Linked DNA regions of Homo sapiens: all the other regions are linked to region 1. The links come from fine-mapping of genetic effects on gene expression. A gene starts in region 1. Each other region holds a variant in brackets. All regions are shown on one strand. Distances are from middle to middle.

Region 1 (8,153 bases):
ATACACTATAAAAGTAAACATATAATACAATATTCTAGAACTGTGCCTGGCATATGATCAGCACCCCATAAATATTTATTGAATGAATGTTTATAATAGTCAATATTGTTTACTAAATAACTTTATCAAAAATAAGGATAATAGTATTCCTAAGTGAACTTATCTTTATCAATAGAAAATTGTTTTTTCTTAATTTATTTCTAATGTAAACCACATCCTTACTGAACTTCACTGACAAGTCAATGGTTAAGAAAGATAATTAGTCCATATATGTAGAAAGGACATTCTAATTATTAAAATTACTGCCCCTCACCTTGTAAACTTTTTAAAATAAAACAACTTCAAGTCAATAAAACTGTGGGATTTGTGAGGTTAGTAATTTCTTATGCACTTACAATTTATTTTAGTTAATAAACTAAGAAAATATATATTAAAGCTTAAAAATAAGATGCCCATTCTTCACATTCTAGAGCTCTAAGATAAATCCAAACAAAACACAGTTAGCCTCACTCATATATACTGGAGTTCAGCAGGAAAGGAAATTCTTTCTGAATCGCATCTTAAGGCATACCAATTTAACAATGCCAAAAAAGTCAGCAATTAATTTTATATTGCATTTTCCATTTTGTAAGTCTCTTTTTAAAAACAGGGAAGTTATTTCTCAGTATTTAACAACTATAGGTGTTTGAAGTACTACATAGTATCATCAGATGAATAAAAGTAGAAAATAGCTCCAGAGAACACATCTTCTCTTTCAGAAGGATACTTCTTCTGTAAGTCTCTAAGGATAAGCTTCTACAACGTGTGACAGATAAGTCAATGGTTGAAACAGCCATCAGTTCAAACAACTGTCAGAGACAGCCTTCCTAAATCTCCCTTACAGCAGTATAAGCTCTTTTCTGCTCCTTGATTCAAGGACACATGAAGAAGACACGAGTACCCACCTTTGTATCATCCTCTTTTAGATTTTTTATTGGACATCACACTACTCAGCTTTCTTGTACTTATTTTCTTTACCTCTTGATTTGCTAATATTACAAAATAACATTTTTAAAGAAAATGCAGATAGGTAGCTGGTCTCTTCATGGGAAGGACTTTCTAAGCGTAAAAGCAATGGATCATAAAGGAAAAGATTAACAAGCAGACAACATAAAATTGTTTTAATTTCTATAAATCATAAGCCATCATAAATGAAAGGGCAATTGTGGGGAAGATGCCCCAAATGACGAAGGGTTAATACTCTCACTATAACAAGAGTTCACATGGTTCACTGTATGGCCAAGACAGTGCCCCCAGCATTCCCTCATCCTCCATACAGGAAACCGCAATGTCTCTGCAAAAAAAGAGGTTGCAGCTTCTCTCCTCCAGCTTTGAAAATTACCTTTGTAGGGACATGGATGAAACTGGAAACCATCATTCTCCGCAAACTATCGCAAGGACAAAAAACCAAACACTGCATATTCTCACTCATAGGTGGGAATTGAAGAATGAGAACACATGGACACAGGAAGGGAAACATCACACACCAGGGACTGTTGTGGGGTGGGGGGGAGTGGGGAGGGATAGCATTAGGAGATATACCTAATGCTAAATGACGAGTTAATGGGTGCAGCACACCAACATGGCACATGTATACATATGGAACTAACCTGCATGTTGTGCACATGTACCCTAAAACTTAAAGTATAATAATAATAAAATTAAAAAAAAAATTACTCTGCCTTTCCTTGTCTGTCTTGGTCTTTGCCTCCTACCTGGATGCTCTCTTTCTTCCAAGCCCTGTTTGACTCAAAGTTCAGAAAAACAAGCAATCAGCCCAGTCTTGATTCCAGTTTTTGCCCCAGGAAACAGACTATGAAACAGTTTTCTGCCTTGCCCTGTAGCCTGCAGGGAAGTAACAACTCGCCCCAGGCTCCAGGGATAACTTATTCAACTAATTCCAGCCAAAGCCCAGCATAGTGGTTCCTGCCTGGGCTGGGGAAGATAAAAATCAAACAATTAAACAACTGGTAAGAAAAAACTAAGACTCCAATACAAAAACCATCAAAAAGCTTTTGCTAATAGCTAACAATAAGATTTCACTTAAAACATATTAATAATGACAGATGTGAGTTAAAATAAGGAGGTGCCATTTTTATCTGTGAAATTAGCAAAGTTTTTAAAATAATAATGCTAATATGGGTGTCATAAAACTGACGGTGGCAATGTAAATTGGCATAATCTTTCTGAAAAACAGTATGGCAATGTTTCGATGTTTTGAGAGCATTCACAATGTTCCTGCCCTTTGACCTCCCTATAATTTCATTTTTGGGAACTGTTTTTTTATTTTTTTTTGAGACAGGGTCTCACTCCATTGCCCAGGCTGGAATGCAGTGGCAAGTTCACTGCAGCCTCGAACTCTCAAAAATATCTTGGTCTGGATGGTCATGTACATGGTCACCCAACTTTTTGGCCACATTAAGAGTTTTGTCTTTATTCTAAGAATAATGAGAAGCCATGATGGATTTTGAGCTAGAGGAGGTTGGGGGGTAGCATAATCAAATTTTAGTTGTGAAAATACTACTCCTGCTGCAGGGCAAAGAATGGATGGGAATATTGAAAGGAAAGGATAAATACCTTTAGATTAGTTAAGAGGCTACTACTGGACAACAGATCATGGTAGATTGGTCTAGGGTAATAGTAGCAGAGACAGAGATACTCAAATGGATTTGAGATTTGGTTTGAAGATAAAATGAATAGAACTTGATGATTGTTTGGATATGGAAAGGAAGAAAGTGCGAGGTGTCAAGGATGAGGCCAAGATTTCTGATTTGCAAACTAGAGGTTGGTATGACCCATTGAGATAGCAACAGAGATTTACACGAGCTAAAAATTTAAATGCGCGATATATCTGCATATCCATCACTGTCTAAAGGCACGGGCCTGGAGAACAAGGAAAGAGTTTGGGTTCAAAACTTGTTGATGTTCCTTTCCATTCACAGAGCCCTCTTTCAAGGCAGGACTATCCTATTTTCTGGTTGGATATTGGAGTCATTTGGTGGTCAGGCAAAAAAGAAGGTCCTTCTTAGCTGGTGATATGGGACGGGGAGCACCAGACCACTCTTAGCATGCAAATATCCCTTACTAACGCTCAAGTGCTTTTCACATGTACTGTTCACAAAACAGCTTCACATATAGGTTCACTGAAACCCACGACCTTGTGAGAAATTATAATCTACATTTAGGAAGCTGAGGGAGAGTTCTTAAATTACCTGTCCACAGAGCCAGTACGGGGCTGCTTTATGTCATCCTTTCACCTCCTATGTGCAGCCTCTAGGTGCAAGAGACTATCTTAAGGGCAACAGGAAACCTACCATATAATGGGGTCCCACTAGGTACCAGGCTCTAGCAGTTTAAAAAAAAGAAACACAACTTCAGAACTTCTAAGGATGTTTCCCACACACTTACCCCACAGTAAGTTCGCTTCTAAACTTTCAAAAAGTTTCACGTCCCAAGATGGGGTGAAGGTGAGACGGTGGAGATGAACCGGGGCAGACAGAGACCACCCCAAATACCGGACCCGGGGGAAATGGGGTACCAACGGCTGGGCCCCAGGAGACACTCGGAGGGGTCCGCGGGCTCGGCCCGGTCCCTCCGCTGGGGGGTTACCAGCCGGCCGGCAGCGAGATACCCAGAGGCCCGTTTTTCCACCGCGTTGCCATAGCAACGGCCTGGCCGGCTGCGCCCCGGGCCGCCCGCCCCATCCCGCGGGCCCGCCCTGAGCCAGTGACTCCAGGGACCACTCACCGCGGCCGGCGGACTGGCGGGTCTCCGACAGGTGCGCACACTCGGCGCAGGCTGTCGCTGAGCCCGGAATTCTGCACCGGGAGAAACTTTTCAGCCCGCAGAGCAACCGCAGGGCAGTGGACGGGGGCCGCGCGAGGACAAACAGCGGCGGCGGGTGCAAAGCCCCTTCTCCAAGCCGCGGGGTTGGCCGGGAGGTGCCGGCTGCACAACGGCGCCCACGTGACCCAGGTGCAGCCCCAGGCGCGCCCAAGGGCAGCTCGCCTTAGAGAAGGACCTAAAACCCCGTCTGGGGCACAGAGGAGCAGCCACGTGTTACGTAAAATAAAGCTTTGTAGCAGGAATATCACAGTACTGAGGTGATTGATGCTCAGGCCACTCTTCTCACTCGGAGTCAAGCCCATCAAGCCCCAGCCAGTTGGAGCAAGGGCTGCAAGCCTTGAACTGCAGTGAGTGGGGAGCTGGCCTAAAAAGACGGGAAAATGCTGGGGGGAGGGTGTTTGTCCCCACGCAGGGGCTGAGAAGACTCCTGACAGATCAAATGACGATTCTCAGGGATATGTTTTAGCTACAAACCTATGAGAACCATCTGAATGCCTGCCCCATGCAACAGAGGGTCCAGCTGTATGCTAATGTATTTACTGGCCTGAACTAAGAATGGCTTCTGTGGTCCTGGGTCCTACTCTCTAGCAGTGTGGGGAAGAAATTCAACTCTCCTAATACTAGCCTAATTATTTGAGGCAGATGTTCTCTAAAATTAGCTGATTGATAGCCAGTAACTTGATACGGCAGGTGGATTCATTGTATTGCTTCGGGGGAGGCTACATTTGGCAACTAGTTCATCCAGTCCTTTTCATCAAAAAACTCAAAATGGTCATAATGGGTGACTGGTAACTTCAAACTTCAAACCACTGGACTAGGCCGGGCGCAGTGGCTCACACCGATAATCTCAGCACTTTGGGAGGCCAAGGCAGGAGGATTGCTAGAACCCAGAAGTTCAAGACCAGCCTGGGTAACACTGGGAGGCCCCCATCTCTACAAAATTAAAAACTACCTGGCCACCAAAGGGCTGCAAGAAACCTACCATATAATGACGTCCTACTAGGTACCAGGCTCTAGGAGATTAAAAAAGATCTCCTAGGATAATCTCCCGCATCTTAAGGTCCTTAATCACATCTGTAAAGTGCCCTTTGCATATAAGGTAACATATTCACAGGTTCCAGCCTGGGCGACATAGCCAGCCCTGCCTCTAAAAACAAAAGCAACCACTGGACTGCGTTTTGCCCTGGATTAAACCAGACCACCAAAAAACTGTATGTTTGTACCATTTTGTCTTCACCGTTGGCAACATTGCATGAACCAAGTCATGTTTAGCACTATGCCATTTGCTTATATTAAGAGATGCTGTTTAAAAAAATTCATGATACCTCTGCATTTACTAGAGGGATTACTTTAAGAATGTTGTTTATTACATCTTTGTAGCAGAATCCTACCAGCTTGTCCAGCGCAGAGCTTTTCAAACTTTTTTGAGCACAATCCATCAAAATAAATATGTTTTACATTATCACTCAATACACAGGTACTCATATATTTAGTAAATGAAACAAGTTTTATAAAACATTACCCACATCACATGCTATGCACCCTGATACTTTTAATCTCTTTTTAAGGCTAGTTTCTACCCACTAATGGTTTCTTGACCTTCAATGCAAGTTGCATTTCAAAAACAGCAGTATAACCAGATGTCTTTTTCTGGAAACTAGACCTGGATCCTCAGACAAGGTAACCAGGCCACCTGACTACAGTTGATTGCTCCAATAGTAGGGACCTGACTCAAGATAAGGCAATCATATCCCTCTCCCAGGAATTTGGAATTAGGACAGAGAGATTGCAATCTTTCTCTAGGAAGCTAATGTGGAAACACAGAACATCTTTAAAATAGAAAATCAGAAGCCTTCAACAGACATACTTTCCCACCATGTGGCCAAAAGCAATGTAGAAAGCCAGGCTGCAGGGAAAATGGGAAAAGAAGAGGAAGGCTGAAAAAGATATACAGAAAGAAGAGACCAAAAGAGTTCTGACGGCTTTCCATTCCTAGTCATGGTATTTTCTGAAATGAATTGTATTCCTGCCTTTGAATTCCATATAGTATTTCCAACTCTTTGGAGTTGGGAGGAGGGGCCTACCACACTAATATAATCACCTATATGCCCCGTATAGGAGGGTCAATGCAAGAAATATATTTCAATCCTGAGTGCCAGAAAAGAACACTTTTTCCCTAGAGAAACTGACATGACTTTTTTTAATAAAGAAAGCAGACCATGAGATTGATCACATTTCCCTTTCACCTTGACTTCAGGAAGATAGCACCCAAATTTGCAACTCAATTTTAATAACTTTGTCAAACTACAGTTTGCATATCTGCATCACAACTTTCTCCTGTTCTCTTTCATTTCCCCTCATTCCTACTTTTATCTTTTTGTTGTACTGACTATTATTTTAAACTGCTTCAAATATTTTGCACTTGCTGTTTCCTCTTTCTGTAAGGCTCTGCCCCTGTATCTCCTAAAGCCTGGTTCCTTCTCATCATTCAGATCTCAGCTCACTTGCCACCTCCTCAGAGAAGCCTTCCTTGATCTTCCTACCTAAAATAGCCCCACCCCACAGTCTATCACATCACCCTGCTTTGTTGTCTCAGAGCACTTAACACCATCTAAAACAAGCTCTTTATTTTCCCTGTTTCCTCACCAGAAGCTAAGCTCCAAGACAGCAGGGACCTGGCCTCTTTGTTTATTGCTTGTTCCTAGTGCCTGGGAACAGTGCCTGGAACTTAGTAGCTAGTTAGTAAACATTATGGAGTTAATAAATAAAAGAATTAATAGAAGAAAGGAGGGGAGGGAGGGAGGCAGAGAGGGGAGGGGAGGGTTGAAGGAAAGAGATTTTGTTGAACATGGTAAGATATAGATGGATAGGTAAATAGGTGGATAGATAGACTGACAAATAGACAAATATTCATTTCCAGTGTGCAAATGTCACTAATATTTATAGAGAGGAACCAGAGGAACTATACAAGAAAGTAAAATATACTCGATTCCCTAAAATATATACAGAAAGATCCTAGGTTTCCTTGGGTAACTCTTGACATAATGCCTTAGACCATTTTTTTTAAGCATTCAAGTCGCTCAAGGCAGCTACATTAAATATTAGGGCTAGTAACCATAGCTGAAGTCATCAATTCTCAGTGAGATAATGGATTGCAACACCATGACCACTAACATGACAAATTCTTAACACTGCCAAGGAACTCAGTCTATTCTAGGGGCCGTTACTATACAACAATCTGCTCTCATTCTATCCCTGTAATTATTAATGTCACCACTAGCAACAAGTGCTATATGTTATTTACTTAAACACTCTATGGTAACGTTATTGTTACAATGCAATATCAAACTGCTTGACATTTAAGGAAGAGAAGCCAGAATTGAAATTTGTCAATAAAACAAAACACAGAAGCAATTAGTACAGTTTGTCCCAGGATTTGCTGACCCTATTGTAAAAATACCAGAATTTGTGGGGTGAGTGGAGGATTTCAGTTTTCTTAAGTCAAGAAGCAGTGGATTTATACATGTAATAAGGTTATCTCTGCTATTCAAAAAATTTTAAGAGACTCTATATAACAAAAAAAACCCTATAATTTTTTCATTCCATAAAACAAATTAAGAGATGCTTAGCTTATTATGTGTTATATTAAGATTTCCCCCTTCCTTCCTTCCTTCCTTCCTTTCTCTCTCTCTCTCTCTTTCTTTCTTCTTTTTCTTTCTTTTCTTTGAGGGGTCTCACTCTGTCACCCAGGCTAGAGTGCAATGGCACAATCTCAGCTCACTACAGCCTCAACCTCCTGGGCTCAAGTAATCCTCCTACCTCAGCCTCCCGAGTAGCTGGGACCACAGTCATGCACCACCACACCTGGCTAATTTTTGTATTTGCTATAGAGACAGGGTTTCTTCACGTTGCCCAGGCTTGTCTTGAATGCCTGATCTCATGCAATCCACCCACCTCTGCCTCCCAAAGTGCTGGGATTACAGGCGTGAGCCACCATGTCTGGCAAGATTTCTTAAATGGGAACATATCTTTGAAAAGTATATAATACAAAGTGTAACTTTTTCCTAATGAGATCTTTCTCTGATTACTGATAGGCTCTACCAATTTATATGTCTTTCCATTTGTTCTCTTCCCCTACTTTGACAAAATAAAACTATACCTTATCCATAACAGCTCAAAAATGAAATAAACATTTGGCAATTAACTTGGTGTGTCTCATCAATTTTGGATATCTGGACTAGCTTTCTTGTCAGATAATAATTAGAGTT
Region 2 (8,153 bases), 66 kb before region 1:
GACCCTTATTCACATGTTTATCTGCTGACCTTCCCTCCACTATTGTCCTATGACCCTGCCAAATCCCCCTCTCCGAGAAACACCCAAGAACGATCAATAAATACTATAAAATAAATAAATAAATAAAAAACGGGAAAAAATATTTGCAGACCATATATTTGATAACATATTAACATCTAAATTATATAAGGAACTCTAACAAGTCAGTAGAAAAAATAAAATAATCTGATTTTTAAACAGGTAAAGGAATTAAATAGGCTTTTATCAAAAGAAGACATACAAATAGCCTACAATATATGAAAATGTGCTCAACATCACTAATTATCCAGGAAATGCAAATCAAAACCATGATGAACTATCTTAACACAATGTTTAAGGTTAGAAGTGGTTTGAGTTTTTATTCAGAAGTTTGATAATGTTTTTGTGACCAGAAATATGCCATAATACCATAAATATGCCATATTTCACTCTTATTTAAATCAATTCACCTATTTTGGTAAAATTGGTTTTGTTTTACTTCATTCACTTAAAGTCAAAGTTTCCAAGAACCTATCAATGACATTAAGTAAGGACTTACTGTACTTAAAAATTTGCCAATATGGTAGATCTTATGTTAAATATTTGCATCACAAAAATAATAATAATAGTAATAATAAAGATGCCAAGAGGAAACTTTTTGAGGGGATAGATATGTTTATAGCATACACTGCAGTGATGGTTTCACAGCTGTACACTTATCTCCAAATTTATTAAGTTGTACATATTAAATATGTACAGCTGTTTGTATGTCAACTATACCTAAAAAAACTGGTTTTTTAATGTGAAAGAATAAATCTAACAAAAAGATAGAACTTTAAGCAGAAAACTGTAAAGCGTTTTGAATAATATAAAAGAATATGTAAACAAATGGAAGGACATACTATGTTCATAGATTGAAAGATTCAGTATTTTTTAAATGAAGCTCCCCCTAAGCTGATCTAGGGATTCTATAAGATCCCAATCAAAACTCCAATAGGTGTGTATATGCATATGTGTTGAACAAGCTAATTACAAAATGTATATGGTAATGCAAACTGTCAAGGATAGCCAAAGACAATCTTAAAGAAGAAAAAGTGGGAGGACTTTCTCAATCAGCTATCAGCACTTACTTAGCTGTATTAGCACATATAGTATTGGTTTAAGAACAGCCAAACAGATGAAATATATAGAACAGTGACACAGAAACAGACTCATGTATATAGTCACTTGATTTAAAACAAAGATGACATTGCAAAGCAGTGAAAAAATTATAGCCTCTTGAATAAATGGTGGTGAGAAAATTACATATTCATATGAAAGGAAACCCGAATTCTATTCTACACCATACATTAATATTAATTTCAGGCGGATTATAAATGTAAACCTGAAAGGCAAAACAATAAAGCTTCCAAAAGAAAACACTAGAAGATGCTTTATGACCCTGGGGTACAAAAAGATTTCTTAAATAAAATGCAAAGACGATAAAGCCTTAAGAATTTCTGTTCATCAAAGATACCATTAAGAGAGTGAAAGGAAAAGCCAAAATGGGAAATGACATTTGCAACACGTGATAAAGAGCTTATATTTAGAATGTATAAAAACTTCCTACAAATTAATTTCAAAAGATAGGCAACATAACAGAAAACTGGAAGAAATAAAAAACTGCAAGGGGGCCTTCACAAAAGAGGATACCCAAATGCCAATAAACATAATAAAAAGTGCTAATCTCATTAGCAGTCAGGGAAAAGCATGTTAAAATCACCATAGGATACCACTACACACCCACTCACACAACTAAAGTTATAAAGGCTAGCAAAAGCAAATGTTGGCAAAGAAGCAGAAAAAAGAGAACTCGCATACACTACTACTTAAGAAAGTTATTTAGGCCAGGCATGGTGGCTCACGCCTGTAATCCCAGTACTTTGGGAGGCCGAGGGAGGAAGTTCATGAAGTCAAGAGATTGAGACCATTCTGGCCAACGTGGTAAAACCCCGTCTCTAAAAATACAAAAATTAGCTGGTCATGGTGTCAAGCCTGTAATCCCAGCTACTCGGGAGGCTGAGGCAGGAGAATCGCTTGAACCCAGGAGGCAGAGGTTGCAATGAGCCGAGATCGCACCACTGTACTCCAGCCTGGGCAACAGAGGGAAACTCGATCTCAAAAAAAAAAAAGAAAGTTATTTGGTACAACTGCTTTGGAAGACTATTTAGCATTATCTATTATCTATTAAAGTTAAATATACGCATATCTTATAACTCAAAAATTTCTCTCTTAAGTATGTTCCCAACTTAAAAGTCTGCAGATGTGCTCCAAAATACATGTACCTGAATGTTCAGAGCAGGATAATTCATAGCAATAAAAACCTGGAGACAACCCAAATGGCCATCAACAGCTGGATGAATACGATGGTATATTCATTCAATGGCTTATTATTCTGCATGTTTGAAAACAACTAGTTATCAAAATTATCAAATACCTAGGTATAAATCTAATGCAAGATGTGTAAGATATATACACTAAAAACACACACACACACAAAAAGAAAATAACTAGTTATATGTGACATCATTGATGAATATTACAAATGATACTGAGCAAAAAAAAAAAACCCAGACAAAAATATAGATACTGTAAGATTCTGTTTATATGTTAAAAAAAAAAGGTAAAACTAGAGACACATACCTAGATGGAAAAAAGAAAACAGGTAATTATTGTAAAAGTAAAGACAGAGATTTCCTCTTTTTTTTTTTTTTTTTGAGATTGAGTCTCACTCTTGTTGCCCAGGCTGGCGTGCAATGACATAATCTCGGCTCACTGCAAACTCCGCCTCCGGGGTTCATGCAATTCTCCTGCCTCAGCCTGGGATTACAGGTGCCCGCCACAATGCCCAGCTAACATATATATATATATAGTATTTTTCATAGGAACGGACGGGTTTTCACCATCTTGGCCAGGCTGGTCTAGAAGTCCTGACCTCAAATGATCCGCCCACCTTGACCTCCCAAAGTGCTGGGCTTACAGGCATGAGCAATTGTGCCCAGCCAAATTCTAAAAGATAGAGGGAAAGAAAGCTATACAAACTGGCTGGGCCCTGAGGCAGGGCTTCTGGCATGTTGACAATGTTCTATTATTGATCTGAGTGATGGGTTACATGAGTGTTCGCTTTGTGATAAATCACCAACCTGTACATTTTTGCTTTGTACATTTCTCTGTTTGCTGTTATGTTTCACAAGAAGTGAGTTTTTGTTTTTTTTTTTAACAGTATCCCAAGGTATTTCCCCAGGAAGAAAAGAGGGTTGGGGTGGAAGACATAAGTAGGCACAGTTCACAAGTAAGCTGTTCCCATGGCAAGAACTTGGAATTAAACAAAATACTGTGCTTTTCTGAGGGTTTATTTATACAAAACAATACATAGTAAACAGATGGTGGCTCTTAGACCAGAGCAAGATAACCAGAAAAATTATTATATCTAAGAAGAAGTTTCCATAGACATGAGGCATAGAGAAGAAACAGTAAAATCACAGAAGCAACCACAATAGCAATGACTATATGAGTATTTTCCAGAGGAAACAGCCCATTTACCAAAACACTTCCACTACTACATTTCCTCTGACAAGGTAATCCCTATGGTGCTATCATAGAAATAGATGCAAAAGGCAACTATAGATTATCTAATTAAATATTTGAATTATATAAATTATCCCCATTCTTATTTCATATTCCATACACAACCTTCTAGTTGTAATGTGTTTTTTCATGATGTTTACCTACAGGGAGAGAATCTACTAGTCAGGTCCATGTAAGTATAATATGCATTGGGTAGTGTTATACATGGATTTCTCACGAGCTTTGTTAGTATTGAGAAAGAAAAGTGGCTCAGAGCAGTCTGAGGAATGCGAGTTATGCAAAAGGTATCAAGCCCAGAGAGTCAGGAGCATGAGACTTCCCTCAGGTTCCCTGTACCCATGCCTGCAAGTAATTGTTTAAAGGCATTTTGTTTTTTCTTTCCTTTCCTATAGTTTCCAGACTAGCTGATAAAGTATCTAAAAAGTTACCGTAAGTTGTACAATTGTCCTTCACCATTATCCTCATATTCCTGGAAC[T/C]TGTGATACAAAAAACAATGTATAGCCAAACAACTTATGTTATTTTAATGAACCAATGTAAATGATTGGTAAACAATTTAGGAACTGCTCCCTAACTTCTTGTTTTCCCACTGGTAACTGCTGCTAATCCAAGCATATACTCAGGGCAACTTCAATCTATAGCTCCTGAGCTTCAGTTTTCAACCATGGCCCAAATATATTAATTTTGCCTCAGTTTCTTCCCTTAGGTCAATGATATCTATCAGTAATCTTGAACCCAAATATTCTGAGATAAAGACAAGATAATATTTATATTCCTTTAAGACTAAAGACCAAAACCTGGAACATTAGTCAATTCACGACAGTTATGAAAAAGACCTCTTGGCCTTCTGTGGCCATATCCCTTTGTATCATGTGCACACGCTTTTCACCTCAAAGCTTTTACGGTGAATTCTGTGGTATGGCTGGAGTATACAGTGCCAGTAGGTGAGTCCAAAAAAGGCGCATGGAAGACAAACCAAAATGTTTGCATATGAGCCTATTTTAGTTTATTTAAGGAAATAACATGTGCCAGGTAGTGTACTGAACACTTGCTATAAATTACAATATCATTTAATCTTTACAATACCACTATGTGAGTATTACTAGTGTTATCATTATCCCTGTTTTTTATAATAGCATCATTATCCATTTTTCAGATGAGGAAACTAAGTCAGTATGGCTATATGGCTTGCCCAAGGTCACATACGTAGTAAACAGCGAAACTAGGGTTTGAATCCCAACAGTCTGATTCCGTCTTGTTCTTAACCATTAAACTGTTTTCTCTGCTACAGTCTAAAACTATTTAGTATAAGAGGCCATCTATTCATCAATAATATTTACAGTGTAGAGACAAAGATTCTAGGAACATGGCAGCCTGAAAACATAATTGCTGATGCTTCTCCTAACTCCAAACTAACTCTTTTACTTCCTGGGCCAGAGGCAGGTAGGGCCTAGAGAGTGTGAGTAGAACCTCTGCTCTTATGGGGTCACAGAGAAAGCTAGTGTAAGACAAATTTTTCTCTGCTAAGTCAAAAGATATACTGAGGTCTAGTGGCAAAGAGCCATAGGACAAGATTCAGAATTCAAGGTTCCTAGGAAAAGCCTGGTCTTGAGAGATTTATGGGCCCCTCTGGTAGACATAATAATGCCTCCCTCCCCCTAAGATATCCAAAAAGCTCACCCTCTGACCCTGGGAATATGTTTCCTTACATGGCAAAAAGCTGTTGTTGATGTGATTATCTGGTGGGCCCTAAGTAATCACAAGGATCCCTATAAGGAGGGAAAAAAAGGGCAAAGGTAATAGTAGGAGATGTTATAATAGGAGTCTCAGAGTGATACAGTATGAGAAAGACTCGTTAAAGATGAAAAAAAGGGACCATAAGCCATGGATCGCAGGTGGCTTCTAGAAGCTGAGAAAGGCAAGGCAATGCATTTTCTTCAAAAGCCCCGAGGAAGAACACAGGCATGCTGACACCTTCATTTTGGCCCAGTGAAACTGATTTCAGACTTCTGACCTCCAAAACAATAAGATAATACATTCATATTGTTTTAAGCCACTAAGTTTGTGGTAATTAGTTACGTGAGCAAGAGAAAACTAGTATATTCCCCCAAAAAACAGACAGAGCTGGATGTTTTTAAATGAACATGCTGGTCTTCCTGGCCCAGATGAGCTGGTGCGAGAGGGGGCGGAAAAGGTGTATGAAGTCCTGCCTGCTCCTTAGGATGGAAGAGAGGCTTTGCATCTACAAAGATGAGAATGTGGAGAGCATCACACAGTGTCCTGAAATCGAATAAGAATGTGTAGTATCAGTGCAAAATAAGTAATAAAAACCTAATAATAGTCTGAGGCAAAAATTACCACACTGGTTTTTTTTACACTTAGGTATTAAGGAAGGAGGTATTAAGCATTAAGGTCAGACATGGGGAGATAGCGGACAAAAGAGCATTTAAATGTCTCTGGTGGGGAAACAGGAAGTAAAAGCACTCTAAAATAAAAGGAAATTTACTGGTAAGGGAAGAAGAGAGGGTCCTGGTGGGGGAAATAGTTGAAATTTTATTTTCTTGTACCAGTGGAGAAATGTGTATTTATTACACATGTTGGAAAAATAGGGGGAAAAAAATCTACCACCACCACCACCAAGAATAAAAAAGAAAAAATTATTTGGAAATTTAGAAACACTTTCAAAATGCTGTGATAAAAAGAATATAAAAACTGAAATTACAAACAGAAGACAAGGAAGAGGAAAATGTTTCATAGCAAACTTAATAGGATGCCGTGAAAGCCAAACTTAAAGGAAACCTTATAGCTTCAAGCTTCAAAAGCATTTCTCTTTTATTTTATTTTATTTTTTGAGACAGACTCTTGCTCTGTCGCCCAGGCTGGAGGGCAGTGGTGCAATCTCGGCTCACTGCAACCTCTGCCGCCCAGGTTCAAGCAATTCTCGTGCCTCAGCCTCTCTGAGTTGCTGGGACCACAGGCGCCTGCCACCAAGCCCAGCTAATTTTTCTATTTTTAGTAGAGACAGGGTTTTGCCATGTTGGCCAGGCTCGTCTTGAGCTCCTGACCTCAGATGATCCGCCCACCTCAGTCTCCCAAAGTGTTAGGATTACAGGCGCGAGCCACCACACCCAGCCTCAAAAGCATTTTTTATGAGGCAAGAAAGATGAAAAAGAAAATTAGTGCTCACTTTTAGCAACTAGGATAGGAACAATTAAATACATAGAAAGTAGGAAGAAAAAAATGAATAAAGGTAAAGCTTCAATTAATAAAACTTAAACATCTCAAATTGTAAAATGAAGAAATCTAAAAATTGATCTTTGAAATGATTAATAAAATAAATACCCCCCAACTTCGCTTAAAGGAAACTGAGAGAAAAATATATAAATGATTAGGAGTATAAAAAATTCATAAATACAGGTAAGAAAGATACTAAGGCAATTATAAGACAATAGTACTTGCAATTTTGCGTGCTATTTACAAATGCTGCATAACAAACTACCCTAAAACTTAGTGGTTTAAAACAATTATTTTATTATGCTCACAGATGCTTTAGGTCAAGAATTCAGACAGGGCTCAGCTAGGCTGGGTTTGTCATGTGATTACGTTGAGATGACAGCTGGGTTGGAGCTCTGTGAAAGCTCAAATTACACTGTTTATCCAAGATGCCAACCAGCTGTCAACAGATGCTGGCGGATGGCAGGAGCTGAGCTGGGAGCTTAGCTTGGCCTATCAATGGGGATGCTCACATATGGGCTCTCCAGCATGGAAGACCCAGACTTCTTACATGGCAGTTGAGTTCCCCAGAGTGAGCCTCCCACAGAACCGGGAAAAAGCTGCATAGCCTTTTCTGAACCAGCCTTGGAAGTCAGCATCACTTCTGCCATCTTCCAGTGGTTGAAGCAGTCATAAGCCTGCCTAGACCCAAGGAAAGTAGGCATAAACTCACATCTTGATAGGAATGTCAAAAATTTTGCAGAAATGTTTTAAAACCGCCACAGCAACAAATATGAAGCCTAGAGGAAATAATTTTCTAGCAAAATGTAAATTCCCAATTATGACCCAAGAAGTAAAAAACTTGGATAGATCAAATGCCACAGAAGAGATAAGAAAAGTGATTAAAGATCAGCCATTAAAATAAATGCATCAGGCAGTTTCACAGCTGGGGTATATGAAACTTTTAAAGAAGAGAAGTGTAATATTATTTAAACCAGGGACTTTCCAATTTTAGTGAGCCTCAAAATAACCTCACCAGCTAATAAACACACATTCCTGGGCCCCATCCCAGACTGATTCTGTAAGTTCGGAGTACAGAACAGGGATCTACATTTGTAACATGCACACATGTGATGTTACCATCACTTATTCACACAATTCACTTTGAGTAGCACTGATTTAAACCAGGAGTTAGCAAACTATGGCCCAGTGGCCAAATCTGGCCTGTCGCTTGCTTTTATAAATAAAGTTTTATTGGAATACATACAGGTTTATTCATTCACTTATTATCTATCTTT
Region 3 (8,153 bases), 210 kb before region 1:
TCTGATCTCTGCAAGTGGAGAGGCATTTGCAATACAGTCTTGTCCTGGCAGGCTTTGATTCTTTTTTCTTTTTTTTTTTTAGATGGAGTCTCACTCTGTCACCAGGCTGGAGTGCAGTGGCATGATCTCAGCTCACTGCAACTTCTGCCTCCCGGGTTCAAGTGATTCCCCTGCCTCAGCCTCCTGAGTAGCTGGGACTACAGGCACCAGCCACCATGCCTGGCCAGTTTTTTGTATTTTTAGTAGAGATGGGTTTCACCATGTTGGCCAGGATGGTCTTGATCTCCTAATCTCGTGATCCTCCCACATCAGCCTCCCAAAGTGCTGGGATTACAGGCATGAGCCACCATGCCCGGCCGATTCTGCATTTCTTTTAAGTGAGATCACATCTTCCAGCTGCCATACTTTGGCTCCAACCATCCCTAGTATAGTCTGAAACCTGAAGTCCTCAACAGTCTGACTGGGCAGGAAAGGCTCCACTGTAGAAGCCTTCGTAACCTCCCAGCTTCAGAAGCATAATCTGAAGCTGTTTTCCTAGTATCACCTCTCTCCTCCCCAGTGTCCTATATCCTGCCCATGTTGGTCCATTTATCAAAACCACTAACTCGACAGTGCCCCTTTGCACCTTGTACAATCCTCCATTTTCCTTCAACCAAGACACAGCCAAAGCAAAAACTAGAAGCTAGAGATGATGTTCTCATTAATCGAGAGTGACCAGTAGATACCCCTATAGTTGTGGGGTTGATGCTGCTGGATCCATTGCCTAGGCAGGGCCATTGCAGACCCCTTAATCTTCACCTTTGTCTAAAATAAATCCCCCCTAAAAACTGGCCAATTAAAACACACTTCAAAATGGGATATATCATATAAACATAATTAAAATAAAAATCATATGATCATTTCAATAGATGCAGAAAAAGTATTCAACAAAATACAGCATCCTTTATGATAAAAACTCTCAACAAACTAGCCATTGAAGGGACTTACCCCAAAATAATAAAAGCCATGTATGACAGACCCACAGCACTCCATCATACTGAATGGGGAAAAGGTGAAACATTCCCCCTGAGAACTGGTACAGGACAAAGATGCCCACTTTCACCACTTCTATTCAATATAGTACTGGAAGTCCTAGCTAGAGCAATCAGGCAAGAGAAAGAAAGAGCAAATTGGAAAAGAGGAGGTCAAACTACAGCTGTTTACCAATTATATGATCATATACCTAGAAAACCCTGAAGACTCCTCCAAAAGATTCCAAGATTTGATAAATAAATTCAGTAAAGTCTCAGGTAATAAAATCAATGTACACAAATCAGTAGCACTGCTTTATACCACCAAGTTGAGAATCAAATCAAGAACTTAATCCCTTTTACAACAGCTGCAAAAAATAAAATACCTAGGAATATACTTAACCAAGGAGGTAAAAGATCCCTACAAAGAGAACTACAAAAACTGCTGAAAGAAACCATAGGTGACACAAACAACTAGAAACACATCCCAAGCTCATGAACTAGAAGAGTCAATATCATGAAAATGACCATACTGCCTGTATTAGTCCATTCTTGGGCTACTATGAAGAAATACTCAAGACTGGGTAATTTATAAAGGAAAGAGGTTTAATTGACTCACCATTCCGCAGGGCTAGGGAGGCCTCAGTAAACTTACAATCATGATGGAAGGAGAAGCAAATGCATCCTTCTTCACATGGCAGCAGCAGGGAGAAGTTCAGAGCGAAGTGGGGGGAAGCCCCTTAAAAAACCATCAGATCTCTTCAAGCCTGTAATCCCAGCACTTCGGGAGGCCGAGGTGGGTGGATCACCTGAAGTCGGGAGTTTGAGACCAGCCTGACCAACATGGAGAAACCCCGTCTCTAATAAAAACACAAAATTAGCTGGGCATGGTGGTGCATGCCTGTAATCCCATCTACTCGGGAGGCTGAGGCAGGAGAATCGCTTGAACCTGGGAGGCAGAGGTTGCAGTGAGTCAAGATCGCACCATTGCACTCCAGCCTGGGCAACAAGAGTGAAACTCCATCTCAAAAAACAGACAAACAAACAAACAAAAACAACCATCAGATCTCATGAGAACTCACTCACCATCACGAGAACAGCATGAGAATAAATGCCCTCATGATTCAATTACCTCCCACTGGGTCCCTCTCACAACATGTGGGGATTATGGGAACTATAATTCAAGATGAGGTTTGAGTGGGGACACAGCCAAACTATATCACTGCTGAAAGTAAGCTACAGATTCAGTGCAATTCCTATCCTAACACCAACATCTTTTTTCACAGAGTTAGAAAAAAAAAATCCTAAAATTCACATGGAACCAAAAAAGTCCCAAGTACCCAAAGCAATCCTAAGCAAAAAGAACAAATCTGGAGGCATCACATTACCAGACTTCAAATTATACTACAAGGCTATGGTTACCAAAACAGCGTGGTACCAGTATAAAAGTAGACACGTAGACCAATGCAACAGAAAAGAGAACACAGAAATAAAGCTAAATACTTAAAACCAACTGGTCTTCAACAATACACACAAAAACATAAATTGGGGAAAGGAGACCCTATCTAATAAATAGTGCTGGGAAAACTGGCTAGCCATATGTAGAACAATGAAACTGGATCCCTATCTCTCACCTTATATAAAAATCAACTCAAGACGGATCAAAAGACTTGAATCTAAGACCTGAAACCATAAAAACTCAAGAAGATAACCTAGGAAAAACTCTCCTGCACATTGGCCTAGGCAAATAATTCATAACTAAGAACCCAAAGTAAATGCAACAAAAACAAAAATAAATAAATGGGACCTAATTAAACTAAAAGGCTTCTGCACAGCAGAAGAAATAATCATCAGAGTAAACAGACAACCCACAGAAGGGGAGAAAATATTAGCAAACTATGCATCAAACGAAGAACTAATATCTAGAATCTACAAATAACTCAAACAGATTAGCAAGAAAAAAACAAATAATCTTATCAAAAAGTAGGAAAAGACATGAACAGACATTTCTCAAAGGAAGATATA[CA/C]AATGGCCAACAAACATGAAAAAATGCTCAACATCACTAATCAACAGGGAAATGCAAATTAGAACCACAATGAGGTACCACATTACTCTTGAAGAATGCCCTTTTTTTAAAAATTAACTTTTAAGTTCAGGGTTACATGTGCAGGTTTGTGATATAGGTAAACTTGTGTCATGGGCGCTTTGTTGTACAGATTATTTTGTCACTTCAATATTAAGCCTAGTACCCATTAGTTATTTTTTCTGATCCTCTCCCTCCACCCACCCTTCACCCTCTGATAGGCCCCCGTGTCTGTGGTTCCCCTCTTTGTGCTATCCATAAGTCCTCATCATTTAACTCCCACTTATAAGTGAGGACATGTGGTATTTGGTTTTCTGTTCCTGTGTTAGTTTGCCAAGGATAATGGCCTCCAGCTCCATCCATATTCCTGCAAAGGACGTGACCTCATTTATTTTTGTGGCTCCATAGTATTCCATGGTGTTTATATACCACATTTTCTTTATCCATTCTACCAACGATGGGCATTTAGGTTGATTCCATGTCTTTTCTATTGTGAATAATCCTGCAATGAACATACACGTGCATGTGTCTTTATGACAGAAAAATTTATATTCCTTTGGGTATATACCCAGTAATGGGATTGCTGGGTTGAATGGTATTTGTGTTTTTGGGTCTTTGAGGAATCACCACACTGTTTTCCACAATGGTTGAACTAATGTATACTCCCACCAACAGTATATGAGCCTTAAGAACGGCCATTATTGGCCAGGCACAGTGGTTCATGCCTGTAGTCCCAGCACTTTGAGAGGCCGAGATGGGTGGATTGCTTGAGTTCAGGACTTCAAGACCAGCCTGGCCAACATGGTGAAACCTCGTCTCTACTAAAAATACAAAAAATAGCTTGGCATGGTCATGGGCACCTGTAATCCCAGCTACTCAGGAGGCTGAGGCAGGAGAATCACTTGAAACCGGGAGGCAGAGGTTGCAGCGAGCCGAGATCATGCCATTGCACTCCAGCCTGGTTGACAAGAGTGAAACTCCTTCTCAAAAAAAAAAAAAAAAATGGCTGTTATTAAAAAGTCAAAAAAGTGGGCATGTGGTGAAAAGGGAACAATTATACACTGCTGGTTGGAATGTAAATTAGTACGGCCCCTATGGAAAACAGTATGGAGATTTCACAAAGAACTAAAAGTAGATCTACCATTCAATTCAATACTGGGTATCTACCCAAAGGAAAATAAATCATTGTATCAAAAAGACACCTGCACATGTATGTTTATTGCAGGACAATTCACAATTGCAAAGATACGGAACCAACCTAAGTGCCCATCAACCAATGAGTGCATTTTAAAAATGTGGTATATATACACCGTGGCATATACACACTACTATACACACATATATACACACTACTCAGCCATCAAAAAGAATGAAATAATGTCTTTTGCAGCAATTTGGATGGAGCTGGAGGCCACTATTCCAAGTAAAGGAACTCAGGAATGGAAAATCAAATACCCTATGTCCTCACTTACAGGTGGGAGCTAAGATATGGATATGCAAAGGCACACAGAGTGGTATAATGGACTATGGAGATTCAGAAGGAGTGCTGGGTGGCGAAGGATAAAAACCTACATATTGGGTACAATGTACACTACTCGGGTGATGGGTGCACTCAAATCTCAGATTTCATCACTGTACAATTCATCCGTGTAACCAAAAACCACTTGTACCCCACAAGCTATTAAAATAAAAAAAATTAAGAAAACACACCTCATTTTAAATCTAACTTGCAAAGGCAGTTGTGGGGACTGCTACATAATTAGTAAGGGGTATTCCAAGTAATCTGTCAGCCGAGAGTCTCCTGGCTGCCCCTTCCCCACTCCATTGTGGCTAAGGGTTAGGGCTCCTGCTGTTGACCCACGGAGAATGAAAGCAGGGACAGCTGCTGGGGCTGTGAGTGACTAAGCCACAAGAGCCTGTGCCTGCCCTGATCCCCAAATAAGGATCCCACAGGCGGAAGGTTTATCCCACAGTGAACATCCTGAATGCAGAAACATGAGAGATCACCTAGCACCCAGCACCCCACTTGTAGCCGACACCCCACCTGGCTTCTGGTCTAGTGAGCACCGAGCAGCTGGAACACCCTGTCCCTGGGCCTTGCTGTACAGTGAGGGGCTGGACTACCTCTCACCCTTTACACCTCCAACGATGCCTGTCATTATTTCTTTTGTGAGCTCTGTGTTTTGAAATATTTTATTACCCAAAAACTTTAGGTGAGTGTGGTCTGAGCCATTTCACTATAGGCAGATACGCTTTTTCCATTATGTTCCTTGCAATTTGGAAATAGCCTACAGATCCCTTTAGTTTGGGGCCCAGATAGGAAACAGACACGTTGCATGTCAGGATTACCTGGGGAGCTTCTGAGACCCAGAAGGGAAGGGCCAGAGCAATCTCTGCTGAGACCTCCTTCCCACCCATATCCCTCTGTAACCACAGTATGCACCGTGCCTCTCCCACACCACACCTCTTCCCAACTCCTGCCTCGCCCCCACCCCCACATCCTACGGCTTATGTACCAGCACACCCTTGCCACCCACATCCACTCCACTCCACGAGGTCAGTCCACATGAAGGGACATCCTGCAGCGAGGAACATCGGAGGACCGCAGGGCCCGGCTGCTGTGTCACGCTACATTGGGGTGACACTTGGGATTTGGGCCTGGCGCTCATCACACTGGACATGTGGCATCTTGCTGGGCAGCTGCCGCCACAGCCCCTGGCTGACCAGAGGCTGCACAGTCGCTGATGGTAGCTGGGGAGCAGAAGCCCTGGAAATGAAAGTGAGAGGCAAGGACATCAGAAATGATGCATCTGAGCCTCTGCCTCAGGCAAAGAGCCACAAGTGGACAAGGACATGTGTGAACACTCCTGGGAATTCTCAGAGATGTTCAGGGGAGGGCGCTCAGAGTCTTCCCTGCAAAAGACTCAGATTCCTGATAGTAGCATGGGGAGAGAGGGCTCAGAGCCATTCCATTTAGGCAAAGAAGTTAATGTGCCCCAGTGCCTGTGGGCGGGAGGCGTGGGGACATGCAGCTTACACAGACACAGACCACACCTGCGCTCACCCTGTTTGGAGGGTCCAGGACAGGTCCTGTGTGAGGTTGCCAAACCTCTCCTGTTTCCCACCGCCACCCCAGCAGGAGCTAAGCCACTAAGGCATCCTCTGGCAAGCAGGCCTGTAATTCGGTTTGTGCCTTCTTCCCTCCCCATATATCTCAGTGGATAATTAGCAAGACCGATACTTAAGGAAAATGAGTGTGTCTTCCTGGATAATCTCAGGGCTCTGTGACTCAGACCCAACCCCAGAGCGCTGACTCAACACACTCTCTGTTGCTCCCCACAGGCAACACACTGCAAAAAGCCTCTTTAGCAGTCACTGAAAGTCCACCACAAGGACACTGATAGGAAAATAACCATGCTTCAGGGACACATTGTCATTAAAGCCTGTCCTGGTAAACTCAAACTAGATTGTCCACGAATCCCTGTTAACAGGAACACAATGGACTGCAGTGACAGACGCACAGTGTTCCGAGGACTGGGGGTGACGGGCCACACTTGGAGGTCTGACTTCAATTTTGGAAAAAGACCCAGATGAACTAGAATGAAGGGCCTAGAAACATGTCACTAAGGAAGAGTCCAAGAGACATGGGGATGTTTAGCCTGAAGAAGGCACACAGGGCTGTGGGAATTACCTTCAAACCCAAGGGGCTGGATGTGGCAGCTGGAGAGGCCTTTAAAGAGCTCCAGAAGGGCCAGTGAGCAGCAGGTGTCAGATGATAGGAAGAATTTTCTCACACTTAGGTGTTTCCAGAGTGGAATTCATCTGCCTTGGGAGGTAGGGAGCCCCCAACCCCAGGAACGTGTCATCAGAGGTGGGAGCTCACTGGAGCTGGCTGTGGGTGCAGCTTCTGCACTGAGGAAGAGTTGGGCTGAAGGAACAGTTCAGACAGTCCAGGATTCTGCAAATATGGGTTTCAGCAAAATACCTGGCCCACCATTTTCTGATTTATTGCTAATGGAAGGCTATGGAATTATGATTTAGCTATTGAGGGCTTGTAAACTGTCACTATTCAGATTCAATTAATCAAGCGATAAGGAGATTTGGCCACATCTCCCAGGGATATTTCTCCGAATGGCATTTCATGTCATTCCACTCCATTCTCATCCTTCTTCTTGCCAAAATACAGTCACTGCCTAGTCCTTGAGTGAGGGAGACACACTTGCTGTGTGGACCAAGATGGTGCCTTGATACCAGGTCTCCCTGGATTCTGTGAGCCCTGTCAGGCACCCAGAAGCCTCTGCACACAGTTTCGCTATTAACTCTGGGTCTCTCTTCACATCCTTCTCCACCTTAGGGCTCTTTTCTCTCTATCCACCTTGATCTGCTCCAACCCTTAAATCCATCTCAAGTAGTCATCTCCACTTTGAGGTCTGATAGAGATCTCAAACTTCATACGATCAGCTAGATGTGGGCAGAAAGTTACCCAGGTGCCGAGGCAAGAGAGTGAAGGCACAAGCTGTTCCAATATAATAAAGAAAGTATTTAGAATAAGAAAAGTTATACTAGAAATAGGATATAGAGATGATCATATATGGATAATCATAATAATTAGTTTTTAGTATTAATCTGTTTTATTATTATAACCAAGGAATAACCAGCCAGTGCAGAGTCAGGAGCTGAAGGAACACTGTGAGAAGTGACCAGAAGACAAGAGTGTGAGCCCTCTGTCACGTCCGGATAAGGGCCGCTGGAGGGCACCATGGTCTTGCGGTAATGCCAGTGCCTGGGAAGGCGCTCATTACTTAGCAGACCGTGAAAGGGAAACTCCCTTTCTTTGGAGGAGTTAGAGAACACTCTGCTCCACCAGCCTCTTGCGGGAGGTCGGACATTAGCCAGGCCTGCCCACAGACATCCGGAGGCTTAAACGTCTCCTTGTGGTGCTGTGCTTCAGTGGTCACGCTCCTTGTTCACTTTTATGTTCCGCCTGTACACCTGGTCCTCCTTTTAACTTCCTAGAAGACAGCAGTAGCAGAAATAGTGAAAGTATTAAAGTGTTTGAT
Region 4 (8,153 bases), 33 kb before region 1:
ACACATATTAGGCACCTAACAAATATTTGTTCTATGAAGAATGAATGAATGAAGAAGAGAAGAACAGATTTTAGGGTCACCATAGTAATGCCCCTCTTTGCTAGATGCACTTGCTATTGACTAAGATACTTTCTTTCAAAGAGAAAATTAAAAGAAACCTTAAACCAGGCATGGTGTCTCATGCCTGTAATCCCAACACTTTGGGAGGCCAAAGCAGGAGGATCACTTGAGCCCAGGGGTTCAAGACCAGCCTGGGCAACATAGTGAGACCTCATCTCTATAAAAAATAAACAAATTAGCTGGCCATCATGGTGCATGCCTGTGGTCCCAGCTACTTGGGAGGCTGAGGTAGGAGGATCACTGGAGCCTGGGAGGTCAAGGCGGCAGTGAGCCTTGATTGTGCCACTGCACTCCACCGTAGGCAACAGAGGGGGACCTTGTGGGGAAGGGAAGGGGAGGGGAGGGGAGGGGAGGGGAGGGGAGGAGAGAAGAGGAGAGGGAGGAGGAGGAGAAAAGAAAGAGGGAGGCAAGGAGGGAGGGAGGAAAGAAGGATGGAAGGAAGGAAGGAAGGAAGGAAAAAAGGAGGGGAAAAAGGAAGTCAGGAAGTCTTAAATTTCAACTTAAAGCTGAATTCTTACGTGCCAAAATCAGAATAAAAACCTGTACTTACACAAGGAAAACCTTAAAGCAAATACTCAAGTCAAAATATACATTCCTATCTCTCATATTTTTACAGAAATAATTCCTAGTGCAACTACTAAGTGAACTAGAATAAGGAACGGAACCTGGACACAAGAAAGCATTATAAGTCAGATGTAAAGAAGGCAATTATAGACTTGTAACTCCTTTATTCATGTATATCATGTTAGAACCTCAAAAAGGAACTTCAGCATTCAATGAAAGATTTTTACTTCAACCTATATCATCACTGGAGTAGAAAAAAACCCTCAAAAAAGATAACTAAGCTTTGAAAAAAAAAAAGTAATTCACTTCCAAATAATAAATACTTGGTTTTCAATCACATGCTGTTTATACCTATGTACTTACTTCATGCCACAAACTTGGTGCAAGGCTTTCTTCATATAATAATAAACATGGACGATTAGCAATGTAATGAACCTTAAGTCACAGAAGTCTAGAGAAGTCCAAAGGAGTTCAACATGAGGCATTTGGGACCTTATCTCAAGATGCAGCCCTTCACAAAAATTTAACTTAGAAAAATCACTCAATTCACTAGGACACATGAAGCCCTAACCAACTGCCAACAAGGAACTAGAGAAGTTGGTTTAAAATCAGAAATGTTGAGCTAACTTGGTACAATGGATTACCTGCAAAAAAAGGAAAAATAAGATTTCCATCATTCATTTGTTTGCAGGGAGCTGTTTAACTATTGCAAATCAGATGCACTACATAAACTTAAAATGAAAAGGAAAAAAGACCAGCATAAATTTGTTCAAAGAGATATAGTCAGTTTCACTATAAGGAAATACCTACATTCCTAAAAATCACTACACTATGCAAAAATGGCACAAACAAGGACTTACGGGGGAAATGTAGCTAGGGACACAAAACTCCAAATCTTTGTCAGTGATACACACACACACACACACACACACACACGAAACCTAATAAAAAATCATAGCATTTTTGTATATGTTAAATGGTTAGGAAACATAAATATATGGCACCTTACCTTGAAAAAAACCTGAAGTTTACTTATAGATATAGGCATTTGAAAGACTGTAGTTTTTGAATTAATCAAGGGTGCCAGAAAGAAGGTTATCTGAAATCAGAAGGAAAGGTGTGACACCAGATGCGGGTGGGTGTGGCTCATAACTTGTGGTGAACTGAGGTAGCTGGTAGATATTCCAGGTATGTACATGTGTCCGTTTTGTGTGTTCCTGCTGGGCTCGGTTCAACTATGTGCTGTATTCTGTGTTCACCTGGTGTTTCTTGCTGACAAAAATCATGGATAACACAAACATGAAATTCACTTATGCTCAAATCGCTTCCTAATATATCAATGGCATTGCAGCAAATTCACGTTTTCAAAACAAGTGTTAATATAGCACAACTGGCTGTGCGGGTATTCAAATTCAAAAAGCTAATGCCAACTGGATACTGCACTCATTTCCCATTCCTCAAAATGTCTTGAGCCCAATGAAATCACAAGATTTTGAAGAATCACAGACTCTCTAATAGAAAACAGCCACAATTTCTAAATAGATTGGTATAATTCACATGGCCAAACCCTAGAAAATGTAGAGGTCCACTTGCCTCCATGAAACTACAACCTCCTTCATAAAATTGCTGCCTCTAAAGCAACAAAACATAAATAGCACTGGTAAATACAGCATTTGATCAAATCTAGTTTTTGCTCAGGAATACAGGATCTTCTCCTGTCATCATGAGCATTATCACTAATATACCTTCTCACATATCCCCAACACCTTCAGCAGCCATATTATGACAACCAAAGCACAAAGCCAACAAAATGGCATAGCCAAGTTCACAAACCTTAGCATTTTTTCCTGCCCCTCATGCTAGTTTCTAGGTTGGTGGCATGACAATCATGTAATAAAAACAGTGTTCACTAACAGACTTCATTTCATCTGGTTTTAATTAAGAAAATATAACCTCTAGGAGAAATGTCTGAACCGCTATTTTTAGCATTTATCAAGTATTATCTGTTCCACAAGCTAAGCTCAGTTTAGTACGTCATGCAAAGTAGGAGCTTCCTAAATCTTTGTTGAACAAACATTAGTTGAACCTACTTGATTTGTTTTACTATTCTACCCCATAATTTTATTCCCAGAATATTAAATTCTATTTTCAAAAGCAACATAGTCACTACCGGTTAAAATATTTTTGTTTGCTTTTAATTACTATAAAATCAGAAAATAATTGCTGTAATAAAAACTGAAAGAGTCCAGAGGGTATAAAATGAAAATAAGAGTCCAGAGCATCTCCATTCTCCATCTCACAGATAATCATTTCCAATGGTTCTGTGTAACATTCTAGAAATTTTCTTTGCATATACACAGCCTAAGTATAAATCACATATGGTTGTAAATAAGCTCATACTATACCTATTCTCAGTAACTTACCCTTTTTCTAAATATTATAGCCTAACCATTTTTTCATTATCCATATATATATTTACACCTCTTTTGTTTTAATGGCTATATAATATTCCAATATATATAAGCATTCTAAATTATTTAACAAGTCCATATCAATAGTCAAGTAAATTGCTTCCAAATGGTTTCTATTACAAATGATGCTATATGCAATAACCTTTTACATATATCTTTGTATACTAA[G/A]ATGAATATATTTGTAGAATACACTCTTAGCAGTAGCACTGCAGAGATAAATGTGTGAGCATTTATTATTTTGATAAATGTCAGACTGCCCTCAAGAAAGGATATGAGAGTGCATTTTACCACATTCTGTCATTAGATATTTTTGAACTTTTTCATCTTTCTCAATTTGATAAATGAAAAATAGCATCTTATTTTAATTTCTACCTCCTTAATTATAAATGAGGCTAAGTATTTTTTCAAATTTTTTTTCTGTAAAATATCTGTTCATACTGATTTTTTCTCATCTTTTTCTTGTTGACTTATCAGTGATCCCTAAATATTAATGATATCAATCCTCCTTCTGTCAAACATATTGCAATTATTCTCCCCCACTTGGGTATTTGTTCATTGATTCTTATCATGGTGATTTTGTCATGTAAAAGCTTTTAGTTTTTATGAAATCAAATAATTAATCTTTTCTTTTGTGGTCACTAGGTTGAGAGTTATGCTTAGAAAGGCCTTCTCTGCCCCAAGATTATAAAATTATCTGCCCATGTTTTTGCCTTAAAATAATAATAAACAATTGGTAATTTTTACTGAATGCTTACTTCAGGCCAGGCACTGTTCTAAGTACCTGACACACATTATTGTATTTAATCTTCACAACAACCCTAGTAGGTTAGTAGTATCATTACCTCCAAGACACAGATGAAGATTCTACAGCTACTTATGAGAATTAAACTCATCTGAGAATGCATAGCTGCTATGTGGCAGTGCCTAGATTTCAACTGAGACTAGCAGATTCATCAACTACAGGCTGTTATCTACTGACTCTCTCTCCACGAAGATAAATGGGAGTTCAAACTCTTTTACAAACCTCTACCTATTCTCCCTTCCCCTCTTTATATCTGTTACATAAATCCTTTATTCAACATTAATTTTAGAGCCTTTACATTTTCTTCTGTTTTCATACAACGCAGTTATTCAGACTTTACTTGGTCTATTTTTAAATAGATTCCATATGCCCTATCAACCCCTTCCTATCTCTGCTTCTTCATTCCCAAGTTCTTTTTATTTATCACTTAGATGATTAATTTTACTCATGAGGCATTTCTTCAGGGACTAGGTCCTTGAATGTTTGAGAATATTGGTTGTTATCTTTATGCATAAATAAGAGCTTGACCAGGTATTAAATCTGTGGGTCACACTATTCCCTGCCTACACACATTCCACCAAAACTCAGACACTGTTCAACTGCCTCCTGGCTTTGGCTATTACCATGATGTCAGAAGCCAGTCTCATTTTCCCCCTTTCGGTGACTTGCTTTTCCTGTCTGGATGCTTGGCGATTCTTTTTTTTAATCTTGAAGCACAAGTAACTTTACTGTTACATACTTATTTGATATTGATCATCCTGTTTCAGTTCTTTTAGAATTCTGTGTTCTTTGAATCTGCAGATTACTAATCCGTTTAATCTCTGGTGGTCTTTTCCCCATGATATATTTGAAATTATTGTCCATTCGTTCTACTCTCTATCAGGCACACCAATAACACATATGTTGGATCTTCTCTGCCTGTATTATCTACATATCATACAGAATTCCTAGTTGAAAGCCTATGGCATAAGCCTAACTTGAAATAGTTTAGATAAAAAGAATTTATCAGAAAGACAATGCAGTACCTCATATAACTTTAGGAAATGTATAAAGTGTAACTGAGCCTGAGGGATAACTGGAACCACAGACTTGAACGCCACCAGGACTGCTTATCTCAACTAGGGCTATTTTTCTTTTGTCTCTTATTTCTGCTTCAATGTGTTGGCTTGGCTGTCAGTATCATAGACAGACCAATTTCTCCCACAAGGCACAGAACATGGCTGCCAACAGCTATAAAGCCTCACATCCTATGACTGACCACCAGAGAGGGATTGCCTTGCTTTCCTTAACTCCAATTTCTAAAAATTCTATGTTCCCCTTCAATTTCTTTAAGTGAATACAGATGTATTTTTCAAGAATTTGTTTACTAAAATAATTCTTAATCTGAAATGTACTTCATTCTGCATGCTTAGAGTAAAGCAGTTAACTAGCTTTGGTTTGCTAATTTATTAGTTATTCATTTATGTTCATTTGATTCAGTTAACTGCTACATAGCTCATTGTCATTTCTTCTTTCTTCCTCTCCACTTCACTGCAGGTTAGAAATCAAAAGATACTGTCCTCTTGTCTCTCTCTCCTCTCTCTCTCTCTTTCTTTCTCTCTGTCTCCATTTTGAGATATTGCACTGGCTTCCTTGGGGATTTTCCAGGTTTTCCCATGGCGTGTCCCAACACGAAAACCTTACAGGATGGGATACTCATGGCCCCCCACTTTCAGTGAAATCTGCACTCTGTTTACAGTCTAAACAGTGTATAACAGAATTTAGCATCCCCTTTGATTTCATCCATATTTCATTATACTCTTAGATTCTAGTCCATAGCTAGGAACTGAGCCATTTCCTAGTTTCACAGATTTTTTTTTTGTTTGCTTTTCATTCTATTTGTTGATTCTCAATTAGTTTCATGATAAGGAATATGGTTAGTATGGCTTTACTTTTCTGAATATCTTCTGCATTCTTAGAAGTAATAGTTACTATTACAATTCTACTTTGGAAAACTTAAAGTTCATTCATTCATCAAATATGCATAGGATATTAACTATCTGCAAGGCACTTTGGGAGGCACTGAAGATACAGCAATGAAGAAGACAGAAATAGTTCCTACCCTCTTGGAGCTTACATTATAGTGGGGAAAACAGACTATTACTATTTTTAAAAATCACAAGAATAGCAGATCAATAAGTAAGTAAAGGGGTAGCTGTTTAAGCAGAGATTAGAGTCCCCAAGTGTTATGGATTAGATTATTCTAGCTAAAGAATCTCTGAGTTGCTTCTCAGTTCAAGGAGAGGCAAAAGTCTCCTTGAAGCTCACTTTATTTTGTGAAGAGTCACTTAAGTCGCCTCCCATAGTGACAGATTGCAAAAATGAGTAAGTACCCTGTATCTGGGTAAGTAGGGCCTTCCTTGGGCATACAACCTAGAAATAACTATCTTTTTTCTTGGGATACCCATAGGCCTTCTGGGAGTGTTCCTTGGGATTCAAAGTTAGCTGTTGGAGTAAACCTAACATTGCCCTGACCAAAATCTTCTGGCAAGAAGGGATACAAATGGCACCAAAAGAATACTCACTAGGCAGGAGCTGTCTGGGTTGGTGTCCCAAGCTCAATCCAGCCCAGGGGATCATGAGGAAGGGTGACTCTAACCCAGCCTATAACCACCATGACACAAAATTATGCTTTGAGAAACAATGACTAAGTGTATGAACGTAAGTCTGTAGGTATATGAATGTAAAATATAACTTCTACATCTTGGGCAGGTCATCATAAATAATCAGTCCCTTTGGGCTGTGCAGGACCATTCTTCAATAGCAACAGTCTTTATCAGCAACAGCTATATTGTACTTTTCGGATTTCAAGTTCACCCTCCACATGGTACATGAGACTAACCCTTTGGAACCCCCAGTTCTTACATAATACACAAAGTGAAGGAAGAGTCCTCAAGAGTGAGAACTGAATTTCCTGGTAATAAAAACACCTGGAAAATAATGTCACTAACTTAATAATTACAAGAGGTATGACTATATTGGGATTTCCCAGAAAGAGTAACACAAGCAGTGACCTGAAGGACAGCAATCAGTTGGCCAGGGAAAGTGAGGAATGCATTCCAAAAAGAGGAGCCAGGAAGAAACCTGGCAGATTTGAGGAAATTAAAAGGGACCAGTATGGCTGAACTGTGGGGAAAAAAAAGAGCTACATTGCTGTCAGTCAAAGATGGTGAGGTAGACAAGGAGCAATATCTATAGGGCCTCATAAGGTATGTTAAAGATCTGAGGCTCTATCCTACAAGCATGCAAATAAACACTTTTTCAGGAGCGGAGTGGCATAATCAGATTTTTATTTGTAAAATATGACTTTAGGGGCAGGATGTAAGAGAATCAAGAGTGTAAAGTAGCAGGCAGGCCAGCTGGAAAGCTATCTGAAGAAGATGGATGCTAACAGGTGGAAGTAAGTATATAGATTTGGTTGTAGGGAATTTAGGAAATTCCCATCAAATGGCTTCCTTCTCTATGAAATAGCAAATAGAAGAGACAGATGACTTTGGGCATTGATGGATTAAAAACAGAGATGAATAAATTTAATCCCAAAGCCTTATGGAAGAAAGCAGGCACTCTGGCCTTACGCAATTCTGCTGAGCCTGCTCTGCTGAGAAGAGTTTGCCCCTTGTGAATCTGGTGTTACTTTATACTGCTAGGTTAAGAATTCTGTATTATTTTGTCAAAATAAATCAAAGTTTCACCCAAGAGATAAAAAGATATAGAAAGAGAACTTTCCATTTGCTTGCCCTTGTATAGCATGTGAATGTACTCTTCCTAAGTATCACCTTCAAGCAACTTCAGAAGAAAAGACTGAAGGAACTTGGGAAATACTTTTTGCAGTTAACCACAGATGGACCCTGGCTAAACCACAAAAAAGAGGGCCTTATTAAAAGCATTCTTAGCTGATGGACCTTTCACCATTAACCTGTCACTTAGGTCAAAAAACAAAAGATAAATGCTATTCCCCAGGTCTAGCGCCACCATCAACATGGAGGAAATGATGAAAGTCCCAGATTACAGGGGAAATTCAACAACCGGTGCCTTTAGGAGAAGAAAGCTGACATTCTGTCCTCATCCCTTCAAAAACATATCCTAAGCAGAAAGAGATCTAGGATCAAAGCTATCTTTAAAGGACTAAAAGGTCTCAGAAGCACTGCTGCCTGCAG

Direction of the effects. Positions count from the first base shown, and alleles are read on the strand shown. Sizes are in standard deviations (SD) of each study's normalised expression. Not every link is listed here.
In carriers of allele C in region 2, the expression in tibial nerve of the gene that starts at base 3,932 in region 1 tends to be lower than with T alone (small effect, 0.33 SD a copy in GTEx).

What was found. PIP is the estimated chance that this variant, and not a neighbour inherited with it, causes the effect.
Region 2: its variant is fine-mapped to the expression of STK33 in tibial nerve (GTEx, PIP above 0.99).
Region 3: its variant is fine-mapped to the expression of STK33 in whole blood (TOPMed, PIP above 0.99).
Region 4: its variant is fine-mapped to the expression of STK33 in thyroid (GTEx, PIP above 0.99).

The regions. Positions count from the first base shown.
Region 1 is chr11:8,590,297-8,598,449 of GRCh38, forward strand. STK33 (serine/threonine kinase 33) reads right to left here and starts at 3,932. Exons shown (of 16, transcript NM_001352389.2): 1 at 3,787-3,932. RefSeq lists a silencer at 3,495-3,754.
Region 2 is chr11:8,524,215-8,532,367 of GRCh38, forward strand. All of the region lies in intron 1 of STK33 (serine/threonine kinase 33), which reads right to left. Among named protein-coding and RNA genes, the nearest start is that of STK33, 66 kb to the right of the region's middle. The variant T/C (reference allele first, on the strand shown) is at 4,122.
Region 3 is chr11:8,376,482-8,384,634 of GRCh38, forward strand. It overlaps a transcript of STK33 not described here. Among named protein-coding and RNA genes, the nearest start is that of LMO1, 120 kb to the left of the region's middle. The variant CA/C (reference allele first, on the strand shown) is at 3,036.
Region 4 is chr11:8,556,807-8,564,959 of GRCh38, forward strand. The region is part of intron 1 of STK33 (serine/threonine kinase 33); the gene reads right to left. Among named protein-coding and RNA genes, the nearest start is that of STK33, 33 kb to the right of the region's middle. The variant G/A (reference allele first, on the strand shown) is at 3,324.